2 separate regions of the Homo sapiens genome follow, and region 2 is linked to region 1. The links come from fine-mapping of genetic effects on gene expression. Tissue or cell type: whole blood. Region 1 holds a variant in brackets; the other region holds the start of a gene. All regions are shown on one strand. Distances are between the middles of the regions.

Region 1 (2,760 bases):
CCCATTTGTATAGTTTGGCTTAGTACCAAATTCCAGAAGAAAAATAATCTTGGCTCAGAACTTTGACACCATAGATCCATTGCCTTCTAGCATCCAGTTCTGCTGATGAGATGGGTGATGCTAGTCTAGTCACACTTTTTGGTAGGTCTGGTTTTTCCTTCTGGAAGCTTTAAAGATTTTCTCTGTCCTTGTGTTTCTGAAATTCCCCAATAGTGAGATAAATAGGGTCTTCTTTCCTTCAGAATGCCAGATGCTTGGTGAACCTTTATAATCTAAAGACCTGAATTCTTTAACTTTGTGGGGAATTCTAACATATCTTTGATAATTTCCTTCCACCCATTTTTCAGGGCTTCTCTTTTTGTGACTCTTCTACTAGTTGAATATTGTACGTCTGAAATGGAATCCTTTATGTCATTTTTTTCTCCTATTTTCTGTTTCCACTTTTTTTTCTTTTTTTCTTTTTTTTTTTTTTTGAGACAGGGTCTCACTCTGTCACCCACGCTGGAGTGCAATGGTGCGATCTCAGCTCACTGCAGCCTCAACCTCCTGGGCTCCAGTGATCCTCCCACCTCAGCCTCCCCAGTAGCTGGAACTACGGGCATGTGCCACAACACCTGGCTAATTTTTTGATTTGTTTGTAGAGACAGGGTCTCAACATGTTGCCCGCCTGCCTTGGCCTCCCAAAGTGCTGGGATTACGGGAATGAGCCATCATGTCCAGCACTGTCTCTACTTTCTAAGAGACTTTCTTGACTTTATCTTCCCACTTTCATACTAAATTTTTTATCCTGGCAAATCTTAAAGTACATTTTCAAGTGTTCCTTTTCTTAGTGTGTGTGTGTGTGTGTGTATGTGTGTTTTAAAAAGCATCTTCCTCCACTCCCTACTCTCTTCCCCCCAAAACAGATGCAATCATTTCAAACCTCTTTAGGGATACAAACAGGGATTTATAAAATATTTTTCTAAATCAGGACTCAGAGAGTACGGAAAATACTCTTGAGGGTAGAGAGAAAAGATCAATTCCTGTGGCAAGTTTGGCATTGGCTCAAGTTTCAAAAACCTGCCACTGTTTTATCCTGAACACGCTTTTCTGTTCCTTCTAAGTTTAAATTTCATAAGACTTAAATTT[T/C]TACTAATCACACCAGCAAACTATTTTCTATCTACTTTATATATATGGAAAATTACAGTAGTATAATAGGCAAAATATCCTGGGTTGAGATCTCAATGCCCAGATTGTACTTAATGTCACCAGGTCATGGGACCATGACTATTTTAGAAATGAATCTAAGGTTCAACCAGGACATAATACTAATGCTTGGGCAATCTTGGACAACAGGTAGGAAAGCAACAATGTACTTTTCTAGCTCATACTTGGAATCTAATGAGATGGATGCAGAAAGGAATATCAGATTTCCAAGGGCAGTGATAAGCCAAGAACAGACTGACATGTGCATGTGACAAACATATCTTATGTCACTAAATCACCTGTTACTGAAATAAATCTGTCACATGAAAACATAAAATTATAGTTTGACTTGACATTTTGTAAAACTGTATTTTTGCCTATAAGTACATGGTAAAGCAGCTATATTAATAGTTTTATGGAAAAATATTATGTTAATAAACTGGAACACAGATATAAATTATATACATTCTAATTATTCTGTGAGGCTCACATATTTTTACATTCTCTGGCACAACTGTTTTTTAAATGATAAATGGATATCTGTCCATTCATTACCACAAAAAACTTACTTTGTGCATTTAAAAACAGTAATAATAAATTCCATGCTATTATTTTTACAAAGACTGTTGATTTGATAAGCAAAAGTCTGACTGTGGGCAAAATTTTCAGGATGGCAGCAGATCTACATCACGTCTTCTTTCATTCTTCCTACATTTCCACCCCTTTCAGACATTTGCCACCTCCCTCAGCCTAGGTGTTCAATACCCTTAAGCTATGTACGGGAATTCACTAATTCATTCATCCATCCATTTAAACATTTATTTTTGAGTACCTGATACATGCTAGGTACTCTTCTAGGCGCTGGGATATACAATAAGTCAAATGGACCAAAAACTTTGCCGTTTTGACAACAGACCAAATAATAATAATAGGTAAATAAAGGTTAGAACATGATAAATACTATGAAGAAAAGATATTGAGTTGAGTAAAGAGATGAGAATAGCAGATATGGAAAGGGGGGGGTTGTAATTTTCAATAAAGAAGTCAGGGCAGGCTTTATTAAGAAGATGCTATTTGAGAAAGACCTGAGGGAGGTGAGAAAGTCAAGCACCTGGGGGAAAAGCATTCCTGGGAGAGGGACAAGCCAGTACAAAGGCCACAGCAGGAGCACACCTGGACACTAGAGTTTAAATCAGAGAGTATGAAAGAGAGGTAGAGAAGAATGAGGTCAAGAGAGAACTAAAATTCAGGCGGCTCTCCTGCTTTTGCTTTTTCCTGAATGCCTGGTCCCAGTGAAAATGTTTCTGATCTATGACATACTCTGTTAGGACCATTCCTTTTTGTTGGAAGGCCATTCAAATTATGGGCCAGGTATTGTACTAGGTGTTAGAGATACTAAGACAATTTACCTGGATCTCAAAGATTTATTATTAGATAAATATCTGTTGAGATATGACCCCTGATGGATAAAACAAAGTCAGTTCAGTTGAAACATATACTTTTACAATTCTGTAAAGAGTGTCATTTTGGACATCATGGAAAAATGAAGAGAAAATTTATGGGCAGGTGGATCTT
Region 2 (2,500 bases), 220 kb before region 1:
TGGCATGCTATCTAGTCAGAAAAAGATAATTACAAAAGAGAATTCACTTTAGAAAAACTCATGTATTAAGCTCTGCATAGAAAAAGACTGGAGGTGTATAACCACATTCACAATGGTTACTTGGAATGGGGAAACCATATTCACCATGGTTACTTGGAACTTGGAATAGTGAAACAACGTATCTTCATTGTGATTTCTATCTTAGAAATGTGTATAAATGGCTAAATGTTCCTATATATAAAAATGTTTCTAATAAGACGTTTTAAAGGTTTCTTGGGGGTGACTGAAACAGCTGTGATTTCAAAATAAAATTTTAGTAGCCATTTAAAAAAAACATTAAAAATAAAACATTGCTATACCATTACCATTAAAATACCAATGAAAAATAAAGTCCTCGTTATGAATCTGCAGCAAAACCTTTCTTTTCAAATTCTGCTCTGTCGTTTGGACCTGTTCACATTCAGAAAAATGCTAAAAAGGCTGCCTGGCGAGGAGCCTAAAGAGGCCTTCCTGATTTCTACCTGCAGTTTGTAATTTGTTCCAGGAAAAAAAAAAAAAAAAAAAAAGGCAATCACCTAATAGGTAGTTCGAAAAGCACCTGAGTAGGAAAATATTTACGGGGTAGGTTTCTCTCCCATTTCTTTCCCTCGAGACCTACCAACAGGACAGTCCTGACAGCGACTGGCCCAGTTTCCCAATACAACCCAGAGAAGCACAGGAGATGCGCCAATTTTCAGGAGACGCTTCTAAAAAGACAAGTTTTACTTTACAATGCAGGATAATGAGCAGCCTTCACTACTCATTCTCGACGTTAACAGAGGAAGATGCCGCTGCGCGGCAGGAGCGCCTCACCAGGACAAAGCGGGGTACGGGGGGGTCCTCGGTTCAGGCCCCGCAGGCGACGCGTCCAGGGCCGCCTCGAGGACAAGGGCACCGTCCCCGGACACCGCCTTCCCGGCCCCCGCCCTCTTAACAGATGCAGGGAACCGCGGGGACCGCAACCTGCCCGACGACGGCGGAGGATCAGGGTCGCGGCAGCAGGTGCCCGGGTCGCCGTGCCTGTCGAGGGACCTCAGGGGCGCCGGGCAGCTGTCCCCTGGAAACCCGCGCCGGGTCGCCGCGCCCAAGGGAAGGCGCTGACCGAGGGACCTACGGGGCGCAGAGGAGCTGTCCCAACAGAACCCGAGTCGGACCGCCGCATCCTCCCCGCTGCCCCATCCGCCACCCCGAGAACCGCCCCTCCTGGGTGGCGGACACGCCCTCCCTGCGGGCCCAGGCCTCCTCGCCCCGCCTCCCCCCGAGCCGCTCACCCGGCCGGGAAGCCCCCGCCGCCGCCGCCGCCGCCGCCGCCGCCGCCGCCGCCGCCGCCGCCGCCGGCCCCTCGGGCCTCGCCCCTCACTCTGCCGCCGCCTCCCACAGCAGCGACACCCCAGCCACCTCTGCCGGGCCGCGGGACCCGGAACCACTTCCTTCCGGAACCGCCTCGCCCCGCCCCCACCCCGGCCCCGCCCACTGCTCGCGGCCTCGCACTGGGCCCGTTCTCCAGCCGACCCCTATCCTCTACTCTCCCGGCGAGGGTGCCCCGCCCGGGCTTCTCGGACCAGAGCGCTGCGCCCCCTGCCGGCCGTTCCCACTGCGGCCGCTCTGTCCAGGGCGCCTGCGCCCTCTGCCACCCGCCCGCCGGGTCCGGCTAGAGCGCCTGCGCCCTCTGCCGCCCTCTCGCCGGAAAGGAGGGGACCTAATGGGCGTTCCAGGTCCAGGGATCCTGGGGGTTAAGGCCCAGGGATTGGAGGTCACCCCTCAGTCATGGGCAGAACTTGATCCCGTGGGCCTTCCAGCTTTGTGCAGATCTCTAACCATTCACCTACCCTCTATCCATTTCCCACTCCTCAAATTAAGCATATTCCCGGAAAACAAAGCCTCCCCTCTGGACTTCCCAAATGGTCGGATGGTACCAACATCTATCCGTCATCCAATTCAAAAGATTGCCTCATCTCTGTCTACTCGCTTGGTTTCTCCCCTCCCACACTCCATGCACCAGCCTCAAAGGTAGTGTGTCTTCTTCACTCTTGAAGCTTTCCGCTTGACACTGATATTCTTTCTTCCCCTTGTGAAATAGCTCTTTCAGGCTCTGTGCCATCTGGTAGTAACACCTTTTGCCCTCCCTTGTCACTGTCACCTACTGACTGTCTGGCATTAGTTTTCCTCTCCATCTGATTTACTGCCATCCTCCCAATGAATCCAACATCCACAACCCAGCCTGGTTTCCTTCAGTTCCTCAATCCGAATGACCTTTACTTCTACTTTGTTCACCCGTAGTCTAGAAAATCTAGATATTCATCACTTGATACTGCTCCATCTCTAAAACCTTAAATGTTGAAATCCCACTACCCAACTTAAACCCATAGCCTTTGACTACAACCACTTTTTTATTTTTACTTATTTATTTATTTTGAGACAGAATCTCTGTCACCCATGCTGGAGTGCAGTGGTGTGATCT

Evidence for each region. PIP is the estimated chance that this variant, and not a neighbour inherited with it, causes the effect.
Region 2: it holds the start of BCLAF3, and the variant in region 1 is fine-mapped to the expression of BCLAF3 in whole blood (TOPMed, PIP 0.94).

The regions. Positions count from the first base shown.
Region 1 is chrX:20,214,384-20,217,143 of GRCh38, forward strand. The region is part of intron 2 of RPS6KA3 (ribosomal protein S6 kinase A3); the gene reads right to left. Among named protein-coding and RNA genes, the nearest start is that of RPS6KA3, 51 kb to the right of the region's middle. The variant T/C (reference allele first, on the strand shown) is at 1,129.
Region 2 is chrX:19,989,598-19,992,097 of GRCh38, forward strand. BCLAF3 (BCLAF1 and THRAP3 family member 3) reads right to left here and starts at 1,464. Exons shown (of 12, transcript NM_001367774.2): 1 at 1,311-1,464. It overlaps LOC729609 (a long non-coding RNA gene), which reads right to left and starts at 182. Exons shown (of 2, transcript NR_024440.1): 1 at 89-182. RefSeq lists silencers at 847-1,216, 1,287-1,336, 1,377-1,806.